2 linked regions of the Homo sapiens genome follow. The protein of the gene in region 2 interacts with the protein of the main gene of each other region in a pairwise test. Each region holds a gene or a part of one and is shown on either strand. Other genes may lie near its edges.

Evidence for each region. Proteins that work in one complex are often made in the same cells at the same time.
Region 1: the proteins of TMEM132D (region 2) and CNTN1 interact in a two-hybrid assay, tested with the Homo sapiens proteins (one large-scale study listed by BioGRID).

Annotation. Positions count from the first base shown.
Region 1 is NC_000012.12:41,024,439-41,027,938, reverse strand, and holds part of CNTN1 (contactin-1 isoform 1 precursor), read right to left. Parts: intron 2,790-3,500; coding exon 2,603-2,789; intron 83-2,602; coding exon 1-82. UniProt on the Homo sapiens protein: Contactins mediate cell surface interactions during nervous system development.
Region 2 is NC_000012.12:129,901,226-129,905,518, reverse strand, and holds the start of TMEM132D (transmembrane protein 132D precursor), read left to right. Parts: upstream 1-1,493; 5' UTR 1,494-2,179; coding exon 2,180-2,258; intron 2,259-4,293. UniProt on the Homo sapiens protein: Regulate neuronals morphology via inhibition of the WAVE regulatory complex (WCR), a complex that controls F-actin cytoskeletal dynamics.

The sequences.
Region 1 (3,500 bases), about 89 Mb from region 2:
AGTGCAACGACATGATCCCAGGTGATTATATAGCGTGAACCAGACCTTACTGAACTGATGATCCTTGGAGGCTGGCTAGGAGCTGTGAAAAGTAGTAATATGCAATCAGTGGTCACTATATCCAATCTCAATTCTGCATACTCTATTGCATCAGGTATTATAATGCTGATGATAATGACCACCACCATCTAGTTTTAATAAGTGTTTACTATATGCCAGGCACTATGCTAAGCACTTTACATCCATGAGTCCATTTAATGTACCCCATGGCCCTGTGAGCTAGGTAATATGACTTTTATTCTCTTCTCATCATGCTCCACTTGGGTTTCTTTCTCCACTAGTCTTTTGAAATTGCTATTTGCAAGGTCATCAATCACCTCCACTTGGTTAAATCTAATGTCACTTGATTATTCTTTTTTAAATTTAACATTTTTGGAGCATTTCACAGAATTGACCATCTTCTTTCTTGAATCTCTCATTTTTTCTTAAATTCAGATCTTAACAACTGGGTTTTCCTTCTACCTCATGGGCTGCTGCTTCCCATTATTCATGCTTAGCTGGCTCCCTCTGTCAACTTGTAACTGTTGGATGATTTAGGACTTCATCTATGTACCTTTTCTACTCTCTCTGTGGATCTTCCCTAAGTACTGACACTTAGGCCCATGGCTTTAAATATTCACAGTTCTGTCTCTAGCCCTAATCTCTCTTTCAACCTCTAGACATATGTGGCTATAGGTCTCTCTGTCTAGGCAGATATCAGCCTATTTCTACTTGAGTCTCTAAAAGATTTCTCAAATGTAATATAATCAAATGTAATACATTTTTCAAATGTAATATAATGTCGAGTATCCTCAAATCTTTCTCCAATGACTCTTTGCCATCGTCAGCAAATGGCACAACCAACCCCCTAGTTTCTCAAGCAGAAATTTGGTATTTAGTCTCTCATCCCACTCATTGCCAACATCCAAATTGGCAGCAAGTTGTCAACTCTGCCTACAGAAAACTTTCCACTTCTGTCTCCATTTTCACTTAGTGCTAGCCACTATCAATTCTCTCCTTGACTGCTGAAATAGTCTCCTAACTGGCTTTTCTGCTTCCACTGTTAACCCACCACAATCCATTTTCTGTACAGATGCCAGAATGACTTTTTTAAAAACAACATCATAAATTAGATATCACTCTCTGTTTTAAAATCTTTCAATGGCTTCTTATCATGTTTAGAAAGAACTCAAACTCATCACAATTACTTACAAGGTTCTCCGTAATTGGGCCCCAGAACACTTCCCCCTCCTTACTCAGAACCTATGCCCTGGACCCAGTGGCCTTTCCACACCTAAAATATTTTAAGTGCTCTTCACCTTAAGGTTTTGTACTACTTAGAGTGCAAAGAACCTTAAGGCTCTGCCTAAAGCTATTCACATAGTGGGTTCTTCTTATCATTTATCACTCAAATCATAGCTTAACTGGCATCTTCTCAGAGGCCTTTCCTGGCCACCCAATCAGAATTTCACTTTTATCTAAGTCACTTTACTTTTGTCTATTTATTCATTTTATTGCCCTGTCAGCTGCTTTAATCCCACTTATTTATTTGTCAGAGTTTGTGTTTGTTTGAAGTTTCTATCTCATTTCATTAGCTTGTAAACCATGCGAGAATAGCACCTTGGACTGGTTTGATCCCTTTTGTATCCTCACCATCAAGAATAGTGCTGAGCACACAGCATATTTTTGATGAATGAATAAATACATGAACAAATGGAAAAAGAACAAAAATGAATGCTCCTTTTACAAATTAGAAAACTGAGGTTTAAATAGGTAATTTATCTATTGTCATACATCTAGCAAGTGGCAGAGACAGATCTCAAACACATGTTAGACACCAAATTCTAGTTCTTGTCACTACATTCTGTCATCTCACTGGGAGAGTCTCTGTCCCAAAGTGAATTTCATAAATTTTCACACTCTAATGGTAATCACATCTTCAGATTCTTGAGACATTCCCTAGAGTCCTACATAAAAATTCTCCTTTTTACTTATTCCACTTGGGTTCAAGAACAGAGATATCAAAATGAACCCAGAGAGATTAGAATGACCAGAACGTGAGCAGGGATAGGCGGTCTTGTTTTATGAACCACCTAAAACATACAGTACTAGAACATACAGTAATAAGAGAGTAAGCATAATGCTACACACTTAACTTGCATTGCACTGTGCAATGACAGAGGTTTATAAATTAAAGCATGTAAAAATAAGCAGAATTTTAGTTTTCACATGCTGTTGATGTACTCCTATGAAAACAATGTTTAAATTAATAAGTACAGGGTAAAGACAAGTTAATGGCACAGAATTTGAGAGGACAGCCTTTACAAAAGGATAGTTCTCTAACTTTATTTCTATAATGGAATATTTAACGTGTGAGGGTATTTTTCACATTTTTTCATCATCTACAATAATTCACGTTTTAAGGGAAATCTTGTGTGGCTGTAAAGGATATTGAAAAATGTGCTCAGGTAGCTAGGTAGGAAATTTCCTTCAAATATATTCGTATCATGATTGAATCCAGTGGTAGTTTTTGACAAGTCTAAAAACAAAACGTGAGACTCACGTGCTTTCTTGGTGAAAGCCTCAATCATGTCACTTGGAGGTCCACACCCTGCACTATTGCAGGCCCCGACTTCTATAAAATACTGGGTGTCTGGCAGAAGGTTCTCGAGCCTGGCCGAGTACTCTTGGCTGGTGACTTGAACTCTGTTTGCAGCTTCTTCTTTGTCATGGGCAGCCCAATACCGAATCTGCAAACATTCAGGATGAGTTATATTTTGCCATGATTTAGAGTCTTCAGCTATGAAAAGTTCTCTTCAACTGGTTCTATTACCATTGGTGTTGGCTGATCATCATATTTTCAAATGTTTCTTAATGATATCTACCCTTTTATCAGCCTTAGAATATAGTAAAGCATACAGGGCAGGAATGACTAAAGATGCCAAAAGCGAATCAAAGTCTTACTTCATTGCCCAAAATTGTTTTACATTGACTAAAAAAAATAAAAAATAAAAAATTTAAAAATCCCAAAAACTTTGAAGCAGACTTACTTTCAAAATATAAAAGTGGTCTCCATTTGGAAGTATTTGTCACTATAATTTTTATCATTTATTTCCTGTTTTACTTCTGTTTGCATGATTTCAAACTTCTTCTGAGCCATTCTTAAAGCAGTTGGAGAGGAATATAATTTTGCTGGATAAAAATAGTTACTATGTGGCCTAGAATACGCTAAAGTAATACTTTCTTCTGCCTCCTTTCAGAAGTATCTAATGTTATTTCCTTTGAACCCATATAGAAGCTAGATATCAAAGAAATATATCTAATAACTGGATAAACTGTAGAAATTATTTACCCATAAAATAATTTTTAAAAAAGTTATCGATTTTTTCATTAGAAATGATTACTTTTGTCAAATAATTACAGGATTACTTTTCTCTTAAAGTTTAAGAAAAGTTATGGAT
Region 2 (4,293 bases):
AAGGAGAAAGGGGACCAGTGGTTCCAGCACGTGTTCCGCAGGCCGGCAGCATCAGCATCACCTGGAACTTTTTAGGAACGGAGATCGGAAGTCCCACCTTGACCTGCCGAGATAGCTCTGGGGTGGGCCCAGCAACCCAGGTCTAACAAATTTTCCAGTGACTCTCCTGCTGGTTCAAACTTCAGAAACAGTGAAAGAGACAATCTCTTAGGGTCTTTGCAGCGTCGACTCTTAGGAATTTTACAGGAGAGCAATACAAAGAGAAAAGGCAACAAGTTTAAGAAACAAACAAAAGAAAAAACAGAAAGACAGATATATTCAGATAAGTAGATACAGAATAAAAGACAAGAGCACATCTCAAAGGACATGAACCCAGAAAAACAATCTTCGGTAGAACAGCAGTGGCTTTTTTGATCTTCCTTGAAACTTTGAAAGCTAAAAACTCTTAAAGCATTGGTATATTTCTGCAACTACAGGCATACAGGATAAAAAAGTCCATTGCCCCCTCAGTCAGATGATAACGACCCATTTTTATCTACTGAGGTGAATTCACCTCATTAGATTCAGGGCTTGTTGGTTTACAATATTCCTTAAAAATTCTGAATGCTTTTCTTCCCTCTGAGCTTTGATGGGGTTAATTTAAAGGCTCTCGTGGAGCAAAGCAGTTCTTGGGCTACAAATTACAGGACGGTGCTTAGGGATCTTGGTGTGGGAATGTCTTAGTTGGAGATTCCGGGCGGTGTTGAGAATCATGTCTTTTATCTTCTCAAAGCAATGTTGTCTCCTAATGGATCCATTTCCTTTCCCAGTGAGCCCTGGGGAGCACACGACATGTTTCTAGGGACACTAACTTGGGGGATCGCTCTGGGAAGGGGCTTGGGGCCAGCATGACCTCAGTGTGGCGTGTCAGAGACTTCCTCACTGCGATCCCTGGGAGATGCGCAGGGCGGGGCGAGGGCCCTTCTCCAGCCATCCTTGCGCTCTCCCTGGCGAAGAGCCTCAGGTGCCCCCGGGCTGGAGGACCTCCCCTGGGCCTGAGGTTTTGATGACGACGAGAGGCCGGTGGCCAGCTGGACACCTGTTGGGAGAGTGGGTGGCTCCGTCCCCGGGGTGCGCCCGCGCTGGGAGCCCTCGCCCGCCGCCACCGCGCGTCCGCGCTCGCAGGGAGGGTGGCCGGGAGGCTGGGCGTGGGGCGGCCAGGGGGAGGTGGGATTTACTTTGCGGATTGGGGCTCACAGCTGTCACTCCGAAAGGGTGGGGCTTTTTAAAAGCAGACAAATTTTTAAGGCGAAAGCCCCAGCCGGCTCCGGGCACCGTGGCGATCGCCTCCGTTCCGTTCCGGATGCGGTCCTTGCGGAGCGGAGCCCCCGCGCCTGCTGGCAGGAGGCAGCTGCGTTGCTCGGCCGCGTCCCCGAGCCGGCGGGCCCTCCTCCGCGCACATCTGGCCCGCCTCCCCCGGGCGCAGGGGGGAGCCCCGCGTCTCCGGAGCCTGCAGTGCGCTCGGCGCGCGTAGAGCCCCGCGAGCCCCAGCCGGGCCCGGGGCCGGGCGGGCCGAGGCGGCGGCCGGGGAGCAGCCGCACCCGCCAAACTTTGGGTGCCGGAGCGCGCGCGCGCCCGAGCCCCGAGGCGCAGCGGCCGGCCTGGGATGGGGGCTGCGGGCCAGGGAGCCCCGGGCCGCCCAGCGAGCCCGGCCACCCGCCCGGGGGGCTCCGAGCCGCCTCTGCCCGCGTCCCGGGCTCCGCAGCCCCGCCACCCCGGCGCCGCCTGCGCCAGCGCCCGCTAGCCAGCCCGGGAGCAGCTGGAGCCGCCGGAGCCCTGCGCCTGGAGGCGCCCCTCCTTGGGCCACCGGGGGCCACTCTTCGCTCGGGTAAACAGGAAAGGAAATACCCCCTGTGGATTAAAATTTAAAAAAAATTCTGTTGGGGTCGAAGGAGGGAGGTGGGGTTTGCCTGCGCGCGTGTTGGACTCCGGAGAGCAACTCAGGAGCCCGCGCGGTCGTCGCCTCCCGGCCTGGCCATGGACTGGCGGGAAGAGGGAGCAGGGCGCCCGGGCTGCTCGGGCCCCTAGCCGGGCGCTCCCTCGCCACCGGCCCCGCTGCGGGCCTCTAGGGGACTGAGACGGTCTCTTGTTCGCCTGGACGGCGCCGGGGAGCGGAGGATCTGCGCTCCGGGTCTCCAGGATGTGCCCGTCTGAGATGGGGACGCTGTGGCACCACTGGTCGCCGGTACTCATCAGCCTGGCCGCCCTGTTTTCCAAAGGTGAGGACGCCGCGGCCGCCAGGGCCCGGGGACTAACTTCGCCTGGAGTGAGTGTGTGGGAGTGTGTGGAGGATGGGGGCGGCCGGGAGAGAGGGCTCGTGTGCAAGTGTGTGTGCGCGCTTGTGTGCATGTGTGTGTGCGCGCGTGTGAACGTGCGCTCGTGCGGCAGCCAAGCTCCTCGGACGCCCCTTGGCCGAAGGTGCTTGTCCTGGAGCACTTGGGTGGGAGGCCTTAGGTGAGACTACTAAGGAGCCGAAAGGAAAGGAAGGCTGTTTCCTGAAAGCCTTTTCTGTAAAGGGAGAGGGCGTGGGGACCCTTGAGAGGAAAGGTGGCCTCTGGAGGGCCGAGCCGGCTGTCGGGGGAGGAGGGGATTGAGATGACCAGGGAGATTTCTGGAATTTGGGATTGACTTTCCCTGGTGGCACTGACCTATTTGGAAATAATTTTGGAGCACTCCTGTTGTATGGGAATACTATTTTGTGTATTATAGGCTGCCAAAAATATAGCCTGGGGGGCGGCTCTGAAGAAGGGGGATGGGTTTCTCCAGGTCTGCCGCTGTGAGGTTTGGGCACAGGGTCTGGCGCTCACCCTTCCGTAGGGTGCTGGGAGCAGCAGCGGCCCCGCAGGGTGCACGTGGAGTTTCAGCTACAAGTTGTGACCCGAATTTTCCCAGCGGAGCCCTGACTTGAAGCCATGTGTCAAGGCAGGAATTCCTCAATGTTTCCTCTTCTCTTCTGCCAGCATCCCTGTCTGTCATGGGAAGAGCAAGTTTGGAAGCTCTGGACAGTCATTCTTCCTTGAAGAGAAATGGTGTGATTTGTGCGGGAGATTCTTTCTCATGATTGACCTGGGCTGCTTGTGTGTGGTTCCCCCACCCGTGCCCCTTTCCTGCAGATAGATACACTGGGAGGAGAGTGAAGCGTCTCAGCAGTCTCTAATACGTGCTGCAAGAACCCTGTACCCATATTTTTCTGCAAAGATTTTTGAGATGAGATCTCTCTCAGAAACTTCAAAGCCAATTATCACGCACAAAGTCTTTTAATTACATGAATTGTCTGTTCTCTGAGTTCTTCCAGAATCACTGAGGTTATGTTGCTTTGGATCTGATAATAGATGAAGACAGTTGAAATGCCGAGTTCTGTGATGGTTCGATTTAGAAAGAGGAATTTACGTTCCCCCTCCTTCCCTGTCTTTGAAGTGTGGTTGAAATGGGCTCACGTTTCCTAATTATGAGTTAGAACAATCCCTGGGATCAGAGCCTTCTGGATTTATAATGTGCACAGGAAACCAAAGAAAAGGTTGATGAATTCAGTGAACCTGACTCAGGCAGACGTGAGGTTAAAAAAACCAAAATCCACAGCAACAACAGCCCAGCATTTTTTTTTTGGGGCGGGGGGGGTTGGTTCTCACTTGGTTTTATAATAGGTCCAGACTTCTTTGTGTTTATGCTGCAATAACAAGGTTGTATTAAGAAAGGTACAGAATAGCTTTGGAAATAGGACCTCACTATTGTGTTTTTTCACTTAGGTACATAGGTCTGTTACTGATTTCTTTATTAGACTGAGCAGTGTTGAAGAGAATTGTATTTAGCCTAATACTTGTGAACTTTTTCAACTGGGAACACTGAACATGTCCTTAAATGAGGTCCTGTGTGATGTGGAAGCCTCTTTACTAGGTGGCCAAAAATTAGCACGTAAAATGTTTACGATAAGCCTAGCATATGACATATTTTGTGTATTGAACTTAAGCAAGTCAGCCAGACAGTTCAAAAGTGAATCAGTTCTGTGTGGAGACTTTGTACAGCAATTAGCAGAGTCTGAGCACATGGTAGATGATTCAGGATTAGTCACAATATGTCAAAGAACAAGAAAAAAATCAACACCCCTATTAGCAAATTGCATAAAATGGAATTTCATGATGCAGATGTGATTTATACATTCAGGGACAGGGCCATTCTTTTCCCAATGTGTTCATATCACCTCCCTCTAAGATTCTCTGATCACTTGAAAGTTCTCACCCATCTTGCAATCAAGTA